Homo sapiens: one gene and its partners. The protein of the gene in region 2 purifies or fractionates together with the protein of the main gene of each other region. This does not show direct contact. Each region holds a gene or a part of one and is shown on either strand. Other genes may lie near its edges.

What was found.
Region 1: the proteins of SLC8A3 (region 2) and GOT2 purify together in Homo sapiens (affinity purification with mass spectrometry; one large-scale study listed by BioGRID and IntAct). This does not show direct contact.
Region 3: the proteins of SLC8A3 (region 2) and MAP7D3 purify together in Homo sapiens (affinity purification with mass spectrometry; one large-scale study listed by BioGRID and IntAct). This does not show direct contact.
Region 4: the proteins of SLC8A3 (region 2) and CA2 purify together in Homo sapiens (affinity purification with mass spectrometry; one large-scale study listed by BioGRID and IntAct). This does not show direct contact.
Region 5: the proteins of SLC8A3 (region 2) and CS purify together in Homo sapiens (affinity purification with mass spectrometry; one large-scale study listed by BioGRID and IntAct). This does not show direct contact.

The regions. Positions count from the first base shown.
Region 1 is NC_000016.10:58,710,299-58,713,817, reverse strand, and holds part of GOT2 (aspartate aminotransferase, mitochondrial isoform 1 precursor), read left to right. Parts: intron 1-3,519. UniProt on the Homo sapiens protein: Catalyzes the irreversible transamination of the L-tryptophan metabolite L-kynurenine to form kynurenic acid (KA). As a member of the malate-aspartate shuttle, it has a key role in the intracellular NAD(H) redox balance.
Region 2 is NC_000014.9:70,178,941-70,182,459, forward strand, and holds part of SLC8A3 (sodium/calcium exchanger 3 isoform D precursor), read right to left. Parts: intron 1-3,519. UniProt on the Homo sapiens protein: Mediates the electrogenic exchange of Ca(2+) against Na(+) ions across the cell membrane, and thereby contributes to the regulation of cytoplasmic Ca(2+) levels and Ca(2+)-dependent cellular processes.
Region 3 is NC_000023.11:136,223,895-136,227,413, reverse strand, and holds part of MAP7D3 (MAP7 domain-containing protein 3), read left to right. Parts: coding exon 1-130; intron 131-1,400; coding exon 1,401-1,505; intron 1,506-2,533; coding exon 2,534-2,587; intron 2,588-3,519. UniProt on the Homo sapiens protein: Promotes the assembly and stability of microtubules.
Region 4 is NC_000008.11:85,467,006-85,470,524, reverse strand, and holds part of CA2 (carbonic anhydrase 2), read right to left. Parts: intron 1-3,519. UniProt on the Homo sapiens protein: Catalyzes the reversible hydration of carbon dioxide. Can also hydrate cyanamide to urea. Stimulates the chloride-bicarbonate exchange activity of SLC26A6. Essential for bone resorption and osteoclast differentiation.
Region 5 is NC_000012.12:56,283,314-56,286,832, forward strand, and holds part of CS (citrate synthase, mitochondrial precursor), read right to left. Parts: intron 3,333-3,519; coding exon 3,282-3,332; intron 2,711-3,281; coding exon 2,603-2,710; intron 545-2,602; coding exon 479-544; intron 1-478. UniProt on the Homo sapiens protein: Key enzyme of the Krebs tricarboxylic acid cycle which catalyzes the synthesis of citrate from acetyl coenzyme A and oxaloacetate.

The DNA of each region.
Region 1 (3,519 bases), on a different chromosome or scaffold from region 2:
AATTACTGTTTGGCCATTTACAGAAAGAATGCCAACCCCTACTCTATGAGTTCATAAAACCATGATGCCTGTGGAAGGTGTGATTTGTTATATGAGTTTATCGTATATTTGTTATATGAGCTGCTTAGTTGAGAGGTCACATCTCTGAGCAGCTCTTGGGTAGAAAAGCTAAATCTGCTATCTCTAAGAAACTTGATATGTACCTCCCCTAGTCATCATGTGACAACTATTTTTTCTGTCTCTCTGTCCCATGAAGATTAAAGTAAATACTAAGAGTCTGGTTCAGGATAGTTTTTTTTGTTTTTTGTTTTGTTTTGTTTTGTTTTTTCCTTTTGATTTTTTATAAAGACAAGGTCTCACTGTGTTGTCCAGGCCAGTCTCAAACTCCTGGGCTCAAGTCATCCTCCCACCTCAGCCTTCCAAAGTGCTGGGATTACAGCTGTGAGCCACCGCACCCAGCTCAGGGTAGTTCTTTATGGTATAATAGGTTCATGCTAGACCTACCAAAAATTTGAGTACTTTTTAAGTTATATTTTTTTGCAGCATGATATTAACATGTAAGTATATTTCAGAAAGTTTGTGAAAGGGAAAAAATTAACCATAACTCTAGCTATTCTAACTCAGCTTTTTTTTTCCCTTACCCATTGTTTGTTTGTTTTTTCTTTATTTGTTTTTTGTTTGTGTGTGTGGTTTTTTTGTTTTTTGTGTTTTTGTTTTTGAGACAGAGTTTTGCTCTTGTTGCCCAGGCTGGAGTGCAATGGCACAATCTTGGCTCACTGCAACCTCTGCTTCCTGGGTTCAAGTGATTCTTCTGCTTCAGCCTCCCAAGTAGCTGGGATTACAGGCATGTGCTACCACGCCCAGCTAATTTTGTATTTTTAGTAGAGACGGGGTTTCTCCATGTTGGTCAGGCTGGTCTCGAACTCCCGACCTTAGCACTTCGGCCTCCCAAAGTACTGGGATTACAGGCGTGAACCACTGCGCCCAGCCACCCATTGTTATCTGTAGTTGTGACATACTGTTATATATGTATGTGCAGGACTGGTTTTGGTTTTGTCACTTAGAATTATACTAAGCTTTTTTACTTAATATTTTCAATGTTTTTAAAAATATTTTCATATTCTCTGGTTATGAAGATTTTTTTTAATGCATGCATTTCAATACACAATTTGAGAGTCTGTAGTAGACAAAGATGCCAGACTGTGTTAATGACTACCCTCAGGGTGGTTATAATCTGATGAGAAAGATACACACATGACTTTCTTGTTCTTGTTGTTGTTGTTGTTGTTGTTGTTCTTGTTGTTGTTTTGAGAGAATCTTGCTCTGTGGCCCAGGCCGGAGTGCAGTGGCACAATCTCAGCTCACTGCAACCTCCGCCTCCTGGGTTCAAGCGATTCTCCTGCCTCAGGCTCCCCTGAGCTGGGATCACAGGCACCCACCACCATGACTGGCTAATTTCTGTATTTTTAGTAGAGACTGGGTTTCACCACATTGGCCAGGCTGGTCTCAAACTCCTGACCTCAATGGATCCATCCACCTCAGCCTCCCAAAGTGCTAGGATTATAGACGTGAGCCACCGCGCCTGGCCACACATGATATTTAATATAAGACAGAATGGAATAAATGATGACTAAAGGGAGAGCTGTTGATTCTAGTGGGGAGTTAGAGAAGATGTAATGAGGACTGCGGCATGTGAGCTGTGCATTAAAGAGGGGAAAGGGCTTTTTTTTTTGCAAAGGAAATGAAACGGACAAGGAAACTGGGGAGAGATCTGAGTGAGGGCATAGGCGTGGGACGTGCATTATGCAGAACTTGTGTAGAAAGCCCCAAGTTGTTTTCGTGATGAAAACACGAATGTGAGGAGGACTGTGGGAGACAGCCAAGCTGAGAAGGTGGAGCAGATCGTGAAGCACCCTGGTTGATACTGTAAGAAGTCAACACTTGATTCTCCAGGCAACAAGGAGGATGGAGGGGTTTGGCTAAGATGGCTCCACATCTAGCCCTGTTCATGCACTCAATATCTTTGGGATCCAGGCCTCAAAGTGAATGAAGCTGGACGATGGAAACTGTAGGAAATTTAAAATCAGATGCCATAACTGGAGGGGCCAGGGGCTCCTCAGCTCCAGCCAGTAATTATTTTGCTAATACAGTGCTATCGTTTCTCATTTTTCAAGAGAAACTACAGGTTTCAGCTTTTAGGCACAAGTGCCCAATTTAAAAACGTTTCACTGGGTGAAGTAAAACATTACTAGGTCCCATATTTGGTCTTTAATTGGCAGTTTGTGATCTCTCTTCTAACCGTGCATAACATCATTATACAGAGATGGTTTAGGAAAGTGAACACCTAAGAACAGGGAGATAAACTGTAAATGGGAATGTCATTGGTGAGAGCCAAGAATGTCCCAGAGCCATGGGAATGGAGTGGAAAGGGTAGATTCTGAGGAAGGGGAAGGTTGTATTCAGAATCAGGTGATCCCCGTGCACAGTCAGAGGACTACCTTCTCCAGTCCCTCAGACAGAATTTACTCTCCTTGGGGCTTTTAGCATAGCAGTGTCCTATGTGTTTTACATTTTGTGGCCGTATTCCATACTTGGTTTACAGGTTTGGTTACAAGCACCCCTTGCAAGCTTTTGAAGGCAAGGACTATGTCTCAGTCCTCACCACCTAAAATAGCTTGGCTCATTGTAGATTCATAGTACATTGTCTCAATTGTGAAGATGGGAATGTATATTTCATCCATGTCAAAAATAAGGTCATTTTTTTTTTTTGTTTAACCCACAGCTTTTACCTTAATCTTAGTAGGTTTTAGAGTGATTCATTCACTTTTCTTTTTTTTTTTTTTTTTTTTTGAGACAGAGTCTTGCTCTCTCACCCAGGCTGGAGTGCAGTGGCGCCATCTCCGCTCACTGCAAGCTCTGCCTTCTGGGTTCACACCATTCTTCTGCCTCAGCCTCCCCAGCAGCTGAGACTACAGGCACCCGCTGCCACGCCCGGCTAATTTTTTTGTATTTTTATTAGAGACGGGGTTTCACCGTGTTAGCCAGGATGGTCTCGATCTCCTGACCTCGTGATCCGCCCGGCTAATTTTTTTGTATTTTTAGTAGAGACGGGGTTTCACCGTGTTAGCCAGGATGGTCTCGATCTCCTGACCTCGTGATCCGCCCGCCTGGGCCTCCCAAAGTGCTGGGATTACAGGCGTGAGCCACCGTGCCCCGCCCACTTTTCTTAATACAGATGCAATTATGATGGGGTTACATCCCAATAAGCCTGTCATAAGTCAGAAATGCATTTAAGGCCAGGCTTATGTCTGTAATCCTAGCATTTTGGGAGGCCAAGGTGGGAGAATCACTTGAGCCCAGGAGTTCCAGACCAGCCTGGGCAAAATGGGGAGACCCTGTCTCTACAAAAAAAAAAAAAAAAGAAAAGAAAATTAGCAAGGCATGGTGGAATGCACTTGTGGTCCCAGCTACTTGGGAGGCTGAGGCAGGAGGATCACTTGAGCCTGGAAGATTGAGGCT
Region 2 (3,519 bases):
TCTGTGGCACCCCACCCCCTACTGACTTCTCATCTAGCTTCTAACTTGCTGACCTTTCAAATCTCCTACCATTTTGTTTTGCTCCACCCATACTCCACTCCAACTCAGATGAAATACTTTGAAGTTTCTAGAACAGGCAAGCATGTGTCTTAGGACTTTTGCATCTACTGTTCTCTCTACTTGAAACAACCTTACCCTAAATATCCACATAGGTCACTTTTAGATTTCATTCAGGCCTTAGATGCCCCCTCTCTGAGAGGCTTTCCCCCGCCCATCTTATCTAAAGGCAATCTCCCCCTCCAGTACTCTCTTGTAACATCACTTTTCGTTTTCTTTACAGCCCATATTCACTTGATGAAATCATCATTGTTTTTGTTTGCTTTTTTACTAGTTTATCATAGAATATATACTCCATAGTAGCAGGAATCTGGTCCCTTTTGTTCACCACAGTATTCCCAGTGCCTTGGCTAGTGCTGGCAGAGGGAGTACTCAGTAAGTATTTGCTGAGTGGATGCAAAATGACTCTACAGGAGTTTTCATTAAGTGATTCTGGAAAGATGCATCTAGGAAGAGACTTCAAACTTCCTGGCAAGCCTTAGGGTAGAGAGGTATATGGTTAAAGCCAATGACCTCAGAGTTCAGAGAGTTTTGTTCATTCTCAAGAACCAATGGGACCACATAGTGTTTGGACAGAAGTCGTGAGTCTAATTCTAAACACGGCCCCTTCTCCCAGTCTTAGTCCTCTCATTAGCACCTCACTTTTCCTTCAGAGTATGGCATAATGATAATCAGCATTTATACTGCATCATTCATTCAATAAATATTAAACAATGCTATGTGCCAGGGGTTTACAAAGAACTTCTCACTCACAGGATCTTATTTAATCCTTCTTATGAGGATGATCATACAGAAGAAGAAATTGGGGCTCATTTATTGCTGAGTGTTGCTATGCCAATAAATAATGGAGCCAGAACCAAACCTTCGTGCTGTGAATGCCAGAGGTCTCCTTTCAGCAGGCTGAAGGAGTGTGTCATGTCGGGAAGGACCAAGAGGAAGCATCCCCTGCAACTGAAAGGAAGTCAGGGCTGGAGTCAAAGGAGCAAGAATCCCAGGGCAGCCTGAGGCCGACATCGTTCCTGCCCTTCCCTGTTGCCAAGAGAGAACCACCTGGGCTCTATCTTCTGAGGTTACCCATGGGGGAGGCTGACATCCTTCTGCCCTGTTGCAAAGCCATCAAGGGATGCTGGTGATCAGCCTCCTTTATGTACATATTTCTCAGGCTATTCTCCAGAAGCCAGATGTATTTTAATGCCATTTAATTTATTTTAATTTTTTAAATGTTGAAATATGGAATTAAATCATATCATTGCCTGATTGAAGAACAAATAAAACCTGGCGAGCAGTCAAAGTCATCTCTCTGAGACAAGTCTGGGTAGTTCTTTTGTATAATTAACTCTAGGGATGCTCTGGGTCCTCCTATTACAAGGGGGTGCTAGGAGCAGATTCCTCAGACTCCCAGCAGATCTAGCTACTACCTTCACAGATGTGCTCTTCCATAATGATTTCCCCTTGAGGTTGATTCCTCTATTAGTTTCTTTTCAGGGGCTAAAAGGCATTGGCTCAAGAGGATTCTTCCTGTCTCACTGGGGAGAGAGTACAGTGGTATGTTTGGGGTAGGTGGAGCATCTAGAAAGCCACTGAGCAGAGTGGTTTTACTAGACTCTCAACAGAATCTACATGGCTCTAAACACATCTTTTCTGGGGGCTCTATGAAAGGCAGAAGTGCAGGAGTTGAGATAGGATGTCTGGAACATTTGGGAGCCTAGAGCACTACTAGTCATTCTGCGAATGCCCTAGAATACTGCAGTGGGAGCTGACTGGTGGCTGCACATTGAGGAGTGCCAACCTGGGGCCCTTGAGGCACTCTAACCAGTTTAGGGCACCTTACTGGCTGGACAGCTGAGTTGACTGGCCAAGTTGATCTCTAGAGACTCAATGTGATAACAGATACACTAGAGGCTTCAAGTTACAGCTGGAAGGTCCTGAAATGAAAGATACAGTCAGCACTAAAAGTATTCTTAGCAGGAGACAATCTGTATGCTATGAAACAAGACTCACAGAATACAGAATTGTCAGGTCAGGGAGGAGCATAAAAGTCAACACATCCAACACAAACTCTTTTGATGGATAAGGAATCCAAGGCCCAGAGAACAGAGGTGAGTCTTACCTGTGGTTGTCAGAAGTGATAAGAATTAGAACATAACCTTTTATCACCAATTCATTGCCTCCTCTATGACACCATTTTCCTGTCCCTGGTTTGAATTTTGACTCCACCACTGTCTTATTTTAGGAAATAGTATAGATCCCCTTTCTTGACCTTGTTTCACCTGCTTCATGGGTGAGGGAGTATATTCATTTATTCACTCCATTTTTTCATTGAACACCTACTGTATTTCAGGCATCATGTGACATAGAGTGGGAGACAGAAAAAGCACTTGCTCCAGGAGGGATGGTAAGCCACACGCAAAAAAAAAAAAAAAAGTGCATTTCAGAAAGTGTAAAGGGCTAATGAAAAACAGATGTCACATTATTAAAATTCACAGGAGGAAGGGACAGCTTCTCCATAAAGCCTTCCCATCAGGCAGAGGCATTTGAATTGAACACTGAAGAACAAGGACAAGTCTTAGGGGAAGGTAAACTGTGAACAAATGCACAAAAGCAGAAAGGGCAAGGAAACTGTAAAAAGTGAGGCTAGATATGGAGTGGGGCACCAGCTCATACAGGGCCTTGAATACAAGGAACTGCAAAAAATGGAATGCCCTTCAAAGTTTTTTGTGCAGAAAAATGATAAGTTTACAAGGGCATTTTAGGAGGTGAATCTTGTAACTGATGAAAATGAATTGAAAGAGGAAAAGGTTGAAGTTGGGAAGATGGCAGAAAGCTGTTTTTTACAGTATAATAATAGTAAGTACTTCGTACAGTCATGGTAAGGATTAAATGGGAAAATCAACGTAAAGCACTTTGCAACAGAGTAGCTGACAGATGGTAAACACACACACATTATTATTATTTTTATACAAGAGGTGATAAAATCTGCACTTGGGTAGTGGTGTTTGGGATGAAGAAGAGGGGCATGGGCTTATAAAATACATCAAGCAATACTTGGGGAACAAGGGAGAGGAGTTCAAATATAAACTTGGAGGTTTCGAGCCAGGGTGACTGGAAGTTTGTTGGTGCCATCAAGAGAAAGTGGGAAGTCAGGAGGAGAAGCTCCTAAGGACAAAGATGATGTCAGGTTAGTAAAAATTCAGGAGGAGTTAACAGGACATCTTGTTGGAGATACTGTGCACACGGCTGGAAACAAGACACCCAGCTTGGAGAGCTAGAGTCACAGACTCTGGGAACTATCCACACTGCAGTAACAGCACAAACCATTCAGGGAGACTGCCAAGGGATAATGGAGAAAGGAAAAATTGGGAGAGAGGAGAGAATCTTGGAGTGGAAGTGGAAGAGGGGCCA
Region 3 (3,519 bases), on a different chromosome or scaffold from region 2:
AGACATGGCAAAGGAAGCAGTTGGAGGCCAAGCAGAAGACCACTTGAAACTCAAAGATGGGCAGCAACAAAATGAGACTAAAAAGAAGAAAGGATGGCTGGATCAGGAAGACCAGGAAGCACCACTGCAGGTTTGCTGACTTGACACTTTATCAGGGGATGAGAACCAGATTATAAAGTTCAGATGGAACCCAGAGCAAAAATCTCTGTCTCTGAGAAAGAAGACATGAGCAGATTCTCTGGCTGCATTTTATTTTTTATTTTATTTATTTATTTATTAATTTTGAGATGGAGTTTCACTCTTCTCAGCCAGGCTGGAGTGCAATGGCACAATCTTGGCTCACTGCAACCTCTGCCTCCCAGGTTCAAGCCATTCTCCTGCCTCAGCCTCCCAAGTAGCTGGGATTACAGGCATCTGACACCACGCTCAGCTCAGTTTTGTATTTTTGGTAGAGATGGGGTTTTACCATGTTGGCCAGGCTGGTCTTGAACTCCTGACCTCAGGTGATCCGCCCGCCTCAGCTTCCCAAAGTGCTAGGATTACAGGTGTAAGCCACTGCGCCCAACCTCTGGCTGCATTTTTATGTTACAGTCTCTATTACCCAGTACCACTGCAGGTCATTGTCAGCCACCCTCAGAAAACCATAGAATGTTTTCCTAGTGAAATAAGCAGAAAACAGCAAATTGTAGATTAGTAGTCCTTAATTTGAAATCCAAATTGCTTTAACAGATTCCACATCCTACATTGGTTTCCCCCATCTTGCATTCTGTGGTACCATATACAACTCCATCAACTGGACCTTACACCCCTGTAACAGATAAGATAAACCATACATACTTCTACAAGTTTAAAATCATTAACTGAAGAATGTCTCATCTATCTAAAGTCAAGTCACTGGGTAAATAAATGCCCAAACTGAGCTCAGACTATACTCAGTTTGAATTATTACCATAGCCCAATTTATATTTCCAGTTTTTAGTGTATTATTCACCAGCATTGGTCATATGTTTTATATATGATTGTTTATGCTTGCATTTCTCAGGAGGGTGCCTTCAAGAATCCTCTCAGTGCTTTTGAGAAATGTCAGGCTGTTGGCTCCTGTTACTGTGTTAATGGATAGCTCCACAGTCACATACTTTGAATTAGGATGGTGTGATGTTCATAACAATGACCCTGTGGTCCTGAATCCTCAGGATAACATTTAGCCTAGCTTTGTGCATTCTAACTAGTGCTTTGAAAATTGACAATCCGCAAATATCATGATATAGGAACCCTCATTCAAAAGGTTACACTCTTTTGTTATACTAGATAACATTTACCATTGAAATTTTTAAACTAGAGTTCTCTGATGTCACTCAGGTATCTTGAGATTGAATGATATTTTTATGCAAATTTCCTAGAAAGGGGACGCCAAAATAAAAGCTCAAGAGGAAGCTGACAAACGCAAGAAAGAACACGAGAGAATTATGTTACAAAATTTACAAGAACGGTTAGAAAGGAAAAAGGTACTCGCTCTCTGTTTGGGGGGACTTGATTCTGTGTTTAAAACAATGTTGGGCACCTGATATCAGCATGTTTTTAAAAATCACAAATCTGATATATGCTAGTTCCTGGTGGTTTTCCCACTCGATTCTCTTCCTTATCCAAGGATCTGACTTCTCCTACATAGAGGGCTGTCCTCTTACTGATCATGCCTCCCTCTCATGGACCCTTGGTGGCCATTGGCCATTACAGTGATGCCTCACTATATCAAACCTCTGGTAACAAAACTTCTCTGAGCAGAAGGACTCCAGTCATGGTAGGGGTTGGTAGAAGTTAAGACTTTCTTCTAAACTGGCTGGAAATTGCAGCAACTACATGGGGAGAAGCACAAACTGTAGGCCTCTTTGAGAGGCCAAGGTGCAGGCTATTTTTAAGGTAGGGCCACATGTGAGCTCATCTGCAGCCCTGGTCCAGGCTGAGTTGCTGCAAGGCCTATCTGGTAGTAGATTGGTCACCTTGAGGGGGCCAGGGAGCTGCAACTCTCCTCACTGCAGGGAAAGAAGTGTGCACAGGAGAGAGAATTCCTGTCCTTCCCTAGAAATATATTTCTCCTCCACCTCCTATCTTCTCTCTTCATTAACACAAAACAGTGTGGCATCATTGAGGTGTATTATTTTCATTAACATTGGCTTCAGGAATCAGCTGAAGACTAAAGACTAAAATTATGTTAAAAGCTCTAATTGGTTCGCAATAATATATGCTTAGTCTAATGAATTTCTGCATATGCAAAATTAGGAGTGAGATGTTGTCATTTGAATGTTTGTGTTATAACAAATACAGCGGTCATCATTCAGGGCATTTTATAGCTGAAACTGGGATTGGGATAGGGGACTCAACTGCCACCGTAAGCCTTTTGTTGGTAATATTTGTGGTTTTGGAGCAATCACTGCCATTGTGCACCTCTGTGAAATGGGGATAATCAACTCCTTTAGGACAACTGTTTGGTTTCTAATCTGTTTTCATGTTTGAATTTTTATTTTCCTTTAAATAGAGAATAGAAGAAATTATGAAGCGGACAAGAAAGACAGATGTGAATGCCTCAAAGGTAGTCTCCATACTCCTACCAGCAGTGTATAAGAATGCCTCTTGTTTCACATTATTGCCGAGTTTTTCACTTTACCCAATCTGGTGGTAATGAAATAAAGTATTACATTTGCATTTCCCTGATTATCAACAAGGTTGACCATGTTTTCATATCTTTAGTTAGCTCTCATATTTCTTTTGTGTGAAATGTTTTTTTTTATCTTTTGCCCAAGACTTTTGGGTTGATTTGTCTCATTGTGGTTCTTTAAATGTTATAGATACTGCTTCTTTTTTGGTTATGTGTTGCAGATACCTTCTCCCAGTTTACAGCTTATCTTTTCTTTTTCTTTTTTTCTTTTTTTTTTTTGTATACAATGTGTAATGATCAAATCAGGATAATTAGCAAATCCATCACCTCAAACGCTGATCATTTCTCTCTTTTTTTTTTTGAGACAGAGTCCCGCTCTGTCACCCAGGCCAGAGTGTAGTGGTGTGATCTCGGCTCACTGCAACCTCCACCTCCTGGGTTCAAGTGATTCTCCTGCCTCAGCCTCCTGAGTAACTGGGATTACAGGCATGCACCACCATGCCTAGCTATTTTTGTATTACTATTAGAGACAGGGTTTCAACATGTTGGCCAGACTGGTCTCGAAATCCTGACCTTAGGTTATCCACCTGCCTTAGCCTCCCAAAGTGCTAGGATTACAGGTGTGAGCCACCATGCCCAGCCAGTTTATCTTTTCTTAATGTTGTCTTCTTCTGGATAGAAGCTTTTTTTTTTTTTTTTTTTTTTTTTGAGATAAGAGTCTTGCTCTGTCACCCAGGCAGGAACACAGTGGCGCAATCATGGCTCACTGCAGCCTCCACCTCCCAAGCTCAAGCAATCCACCCATCTCACCCTTCCAAGTAGCTGAGACTACAGGTGCATGCCACCACACCTGGCTAATTTTTTAT
Region 4 (3,519 bases), on a different chromosome or scaffold from region 2:
TAAGATGCACTGGAGTAACAGACTAAAGACCGTAATGAATGTCAACAGTTTCTCCTAAGTCCAAAATATAAATAAACTAGTCCCAGTAATCTTTAGTTTAAAAATAAAATTTAAATGATTTCCTACTAATAAAGCAAAAGATTAATTCTACAGAAAACATGTCATTTTCGGTACCATCTTTTCTATAAATAACCTGAAAAATTTTAAATCATGCATTACTGTTTTGCCTGTTGGCAGCAGCCAATAATCCTAGGGCTACGTGCCAATATAGACAAATCTGGGGGGAAAAAATACACGTATTCCATTTGTTTTAAAGCAATAAGATGTTTAGCTGTCACTTTCGCTAGAGTAAACACAGTTGAAATTCAACAGAAGTCGTGGTTTAAACTATGTGGCAATTATATAGGAGTAAAAAAAGAAGCTGTTTTGATGTGAATATAGTAACTACAGTGTTTAGAATATGTTGGTCCATTTTCTAGATATTTAAGGTTCGGCTGACACCATTACTGCGTGCATGACAAGCCCTTTCATTTGTTGTTATGCTTTCTTTTAACTTAGGACTGCTGTGAAAGAAAACTTTTAGAGCTTCAAAAGCAAGTCCCTGAAAGTCAAGCAGGATCCATGTATGAAGATCCATTACGTCATACAGACAATGGGTCACTTAAAAAGAGCACAGGTAAACTCATCCAGCTTCCTTTACTCTTTTCTTGAAATAACAAACAGATTTAAAAAATTCCAATTTCTGAAAAACAGAAATGATGTAAGACTTGGATAAGAGTTGGCCCAATAATTCTGGCATTGACTTTCAATATTTGTCCCTAACTTTGCAATAAAGCAGGAGAGTATTAAACTCATTAATAAAAGTTAATAAGTTAGCAGGAGTTAATAATTTGACTACTATTATTTTCTCCCAGATAAGGCCATTAATAAAACATCTCAAGCAGGGTGAGTTATTTTTTAATAAGTTTTTTAAGAACCTAAAGGGATTAGCAATTTTTCATTAACTTAAGGTGAATTTATGGTGGCTTATTTTCAAAGGAATTTAGAAGATTGATGAGAGCTCTAACCCAAGTTTCTAGTTAAATCCTATTAACTCCGTAGTTTAAAAAATTCTCTCAAGCTTAAATCAGCAATAAAGTCAACCCGCTCAGTTCCTGATACCCAAGTTCTTAAGTTTGGATATAAGAGAACATTTAAAGCATATTGGAAAACCTCAATCTATGAGAAGTTCTAGAAGGCTGAAATCTCATTGAGGCAAAGAAGACAGGTAAATGAACTGCATTTAAATGCAGGAAATAAGAGGTATAGGAAATCTAAAAATGTTACCACCACAAAAATAACTCCTAATAAAAAGAGATGTTAAACTGCCGATTTTTTAAAATTAAGTGACTAAAATAAATAACTTTTTGACTTGTGTACAGAAAAAAATGCCAGCTTTTAAAAAACATGGTATGTATAAACTAAATGTCAAATAAGGTTATCCTTCAAATATTTTTATTCAAAATTCTATTTTTAAGTGATTGCTACTTAGTCCCTCCAGCAAACTAGCAAGGAGACGACTTAGCAAGTTATTTAAACTCTTCAGCTTCTGTTTCTTCATGTTTATTAAGGTGAGTTTAACTAGAGTATCTCTATTCTTTGTTTTGGCTTTGAGAGCCTAGGATTGTTTTATTTAAAAAAAAAAAAAAGAAAGAAAGTCTAAAGGGAGTTTTTCCACATGGTTTTGTGTGTGTGTGTGTGTGGTTTTTTGTTTGTTTGTTTGTTTTGAGATGGAGTCTCGTTCTGTCACCAGGCTGGAGTGCAGTGGTGCGGTCTCGGCTCACTGCGACCTCCGCCTCCCGGGATCCAGCGATTCTCCTGCCTCAGTCTCCTGAGTAGCTGGGATTACAGGCACATGCCACAACACCTAGCTCATTTTTTGCATTTTTAGTACAGACAGTGTTTCACCCTGTTGGCCAGGCTGGTCTTGAACTTCTGACCTCAAGTGATCCGCCCACCTCAGTCTTCCAAAGTGCTGGGACTACAGGCGTGAGCCACCGTGCCTGTCCCCCACATGGTATGATTTTTAAAAATTTATTCTGTAGATGTCTTTTCTCTTAATATTGACATTTTAATATATTCTGCATTCTTGTTTAACCAAAGTAACTGAAAATGTGGAAAAGAGAGGCAAAATTACAAAGGAATCTTTCATATGCAAAGGAGGGCAAGTCCTTTCTGACCTTGCTTTTAGTATACCTTCTTGCCTTTCTGGAGCACATGCTGTGCTCTCTTAAGTCTCCTGGTATTTCCTATCTCCCTTTGCCTGGACTCTCGTCCAAGACATCAAAATCCTTCAAGCCTCCACATAAGCCTTATTTACCCTGGAAAGTCTTTCCTGTCTTATCAGTTAAACTGCCAAGCCTCCTTCACGTTTCCATAGTTCCTTGGAGTACTTCCTTTCTGCACTTATCAAAGTGGCAGTCAGGGTCTACTATTTCTATGTCTTTCTACTTTAGATATTTCCAGCATGGGCTCCGGGGAACAGGAGAGGGACCAGGCCTCCACCCTGCTTTCATGATGCTTAGCTTCCCATGCATTTAAGTGGTGTTAATAATGACTTTTTTGTAGAACTAGGTGGATAATACATGTGTCTCTAAAGGCATGGGTGGGAGCTCCTACCGAAACCCTGTGGTTTTCATCTGTTTCACAATCTAAACATGGCCAACTTCTTTAAAAATGTATGCATTGCTCTCCAGAAGAAATAGCTGTGAAAAATGTAGCTAGATCTAATTAGTTACTGCTTATAGAGAAATCTGTCAAAGTTTAACAGATTCATGGTAAAATATGTAACTATATAATAACTTCATACATAAAATAAGTACATATTCAGTATGATAAACAGTATGCTTCAGAAAATATAAAAATAAAAATTTAAAATACATCAAATGATGGGAACTAATCTTAAAGCTGTTAAAGAAAAAGTTTATTCAGAAATCTTATCGCAGGTGCAACATCTACAGCAATGGTCTAACAGAGGTGGTCGAAGGGTTCAAGTTGTGACAACAACAGAGGCCATTTATTGAGCAACTTCTATGCGCCAGGCACTGGGCTAGGGGCTTTACATATACTGTCCCATTTCATCCTTCCACTGTGGCAGACACTATTGTTACTCCAACTTTACAGTTAAAAACAATTAAAACCTAGACAGTATTACTCCCAAAGTCTCTGAGCTAGTTGCCGGCAGCTCTAGAACTCAAATCCAGGTCTCTCTGACCCCAGTCTATGCTGATAGCCACCAGACCATGTGTTCAAATCCACTTTCCAGTAATACATATTACTAGAATAATTTATTTCACTATCCATTTTTTAAGGACTATTAGGAACCTCATCTGCTTTCATTTGTTGGAGATTTGTTTCTTCAGTGCTCCAAAAAAGACTTAAACTATCCAATTTCTATGTAGCATCCAATGAGATACATAATTTGGCAGACATTACATCCATTGAAAACAATGACATCATTGTGGCTCTTTAAAAAAGTAC
Region 5 (3,519 bases), on a different chromosome or scaffold from region 2:
GCTCACTGCAAACTCCGCCTCCTGGGTTCACGCCATTCTCCTGCCTCAGCCTCCCGAGTAGCTGGGACTACAGGTGCCTGCCACCATGCCCGGCTAATTTTGTGTGTTTTTAGTACAGACAGGGTTTCGCCGTGTTAGCCAGGACGGTCTCAACCTCCTGACCGCATGATCTGCCCGCCTCAGCCTCCCAAAGTGCTGGGATTACAGGTGTGAGCCACTGCGCCCAGTCCAGAACAGAACTTTAAATTAAGCTTAAATCTTCACATAACTTACCTCTGGTTTTGTACTTTTATTTTTACTAGTTGATATATTTAAAAGGTAAATTTGTTCTTCAATTATTCCATACATATGTCTTCTCTACCTTCCAATATATGAAGCTAGGTGCTCTGTTTTGTGCTTACCCTTACTGGTCTAATCCACGGTTTGCGTATTTGCACAAACTCAATGATTATTAGTAATTGACATGAAGATGTCTTACCTCATCAGGATCAAGAACTGATGTTTCATAGACCAATCCCTTCATGCCTCTCATGCCACCATACATCTAAAGAGGATGAAGAAAGAAGGAAAAAAAAAAGAGGCTGTGGCCAGTAATCAGAATGATTCAGACTAGAACTTGTTAGAGCTTCATGGGATCTGGGAGAGAAAATTTATTCTCAGACTTGTAAGACTTCATTTGGTGAGAGATGTCTGAGGAGTCAGCTTACTAAAGAATTAAACTTTGTGGCCAGGCACAGTGGCTGACACCTGTAATCCCAGCACTTTGGGAAGCCGAGGCAGGTGGATCACCTGAGGTCAGGAGTTTGAGACCAGCCTGGCCAACAGGGTGAAACCATGTCTCTACTAAAAATTAAAAAATTAGCGGGCATGGTGTATGTGCCTGTAATCCCAGCTACTTGGGAGGCTGAGGCAGGAGAATCGCTTGAACCCAGAAGGCAGAGATTGCAGTGAGCCAAGATCACACCATTGCACTTCAGCCTGGGTGACAAGAGCAAAACTCCATCTCAAAAAAAAAAAAAAAAAAGAAAAAAAAAAACAAACTTTGTGGCCAGGTACGGTGGGGCTCATGCCTGTAATCCCAGCACTTTGGGAGGCTGAGGAGGAGGGAAGATCACTAAGCCTCTCACAGAGTCTGTCACTCAGGCTGCAGCACAGTGGCACAATCACGGCTTACTGCAGCCTTGACTTGCAGGCTCAGGTGATCCACCCACTTCAGCCTCCTGAGTAGCTGGGATTATAGGCACGTGCCACCATGTCTGGCTAATTTTTGTATTTCTTTTTTTTTTTTTTAAAGAAATGGGGTTTAGGCCGGGTGCAGTGGCTCACGCCTGTAATCCCAGCACTTTGGGAGGCCAAGGCGGGCAGATCACGACGTCAGGATATCGAGACATCCTGGCCAACATGGTGAAACCCTGTCTCTACTAAAAATACAAAAATCAGCTGGGCGTGGTGGTGCGGGCCTGTAATCCCAGCTACTCAGGAGGCTGAGGCAGAAGAATCGCTTGAACCCGGGAGGCGGAGGTTGTAGTGAGCCGAGATCACGTCACTGTACTCCAGCCTGGTGACTCAGTGAGACTCCGTCCCAAAAAAAAAAAAAAAAACAGGGTTTTGCCAGCCATGTTGCCAAGGCTGATCTTTTTTTTTTTCCCCCCAGATGGAGTCTCACTCTTGCCCAGGCTGGAGTGCAATGGTGCAATCTCAGCTCACTGCAACCTCTGCCTCCTGGGTTTAAGTGATTCTCCTGCCTCAGGCTCCTGAGTAGCTGGGATTACAGTTGCCTGCCACCATGCCCAGCTAATTTTTATATTTTTTAGTAGAGACGGAGTTTTACCATGTTGGCCAGGCTGGTCTCGAACTCCTGACCTCAGATGAGCCACCCGCCTCAGCCTCCCAAAGTGCTGGGATTACAGGCATGAGCCACTGCAACAGGCCTGGAAATGAAATTTTTTAAGTTGAGAAATCACTATCTTTCTTTTTGTTTGTTTTGGAGATAGGGTCTCCCTCTGTTGCCCAGGCTATACTACAGTGGCATAATCATGGCTCACTGCAGCCCTGAACTCCTGGGCTCAAGCAATCCTCCTGCCTTTGCCTCCCCAGTAGCTGGGACTACAGGGGCATCCCACCATCTCTGGCTAATTTTTTAAATTTTTCTTTCATAGAGATTGTATCTTCCTTTGTTGATCAAGCTGGTTGTTAACTCCTGGCCTCAAGTGATTCTCCAACTGCAGCCTCCCAAAATGTTGGGATAATAGGCATGAGCCATTGCGCCCTCTGTTTGATTCCTTTTCTTATTGTATTTCACTTTTTTTCTCCTGCCCACTCAACCACTCCCCAACATACCCTACCCTCAAATTCCAACCAATCAAAACAAACAGAATGAGTTCTAGTCTAGGAGAAGGGGATGGAGACCAATAAGCTAAAAACTGTTGAGAAACTATCAGCTGAGCTGCTCAGAATCTGAAGGATGGGGAAAAGTCATCCTAAAGCTGTCCTACAGGGCCTATGGGACAGAATGCTTTTGAATAGTCAGTGGAGAGAATGTTACTTTTGTTGAAGCACATTACAGAGCTACTTTTCCCAGCCAAAGCCACACAACCCTTACCATGTCCACAGTGATTTGGCCCACCACCGTCTTGCCATGTTGCTGCCTGAAAGTCTTAATTCTGGCCTGCTCCTTAGGTATCAGGTCAGCCAATATGTCTTTCAAATTCTAAAAAGAAAAGTAGAAGGACTAAGCAATGGTCTAAAAGTTTATTAGATTTCCTGCAAAGTAGGTGTGTCAAGAATTTGCTTTTTAGAAGCTGGCTTTATCTGCCAGGGAAGTCTGGTCAACTACTCTGCACAAATGAGGGTAAAAGAATTAGGCAGGGGGAAGAAGGAATGAGGAGTTAATGTTTAATGGGAACAGTTTCTCGGTTTGGGCAGACAAAAGTTCTGGAGATGGATGGTTGCACAATAATGTAAACATATCTACTGCCACTAAACCATATACTTAAAAATGATTAAAATGGTAAATTTTATGTTATGTATATTTTACACTACTTAAAACATTTAAAAGAATTAGGCAAATGTATTGATATTCCCATCTCACTATACCACTGAGTAAATTATTTGTTAAATAGTAATATAATAATAATAGCAGCTATAACAATAACAATAGTAACAAACACTTCCAGGAAATACTCAGGATAATAAGAGGCCAGGTGGTTGCCAAATCCTCTGCCCCAAGGTCAGGCTGGCCGCAATGATTCTTATTCTTAGTCTTCTTTTCCAAACCTTACCGTGGAGGAAGCACTGGCATGCCGGGCTGCAAGAACAAGACAAGATGCATTCTGCAAAGCAAAAAAGAGAACCTTATGTAACTGTTACCCCTCCCTCTTTTATATTAACAAGAAGGAATTACAGTGACTCAACCTCTCTCTCTTCATCTCAGTCTCTTAGGGCAGTTTGACATAAGAAAGCTGTAAAAGTCCCCAAACAGTTTGGAAGGAGTTACCACTATGGAGACAGCAGGAGGTT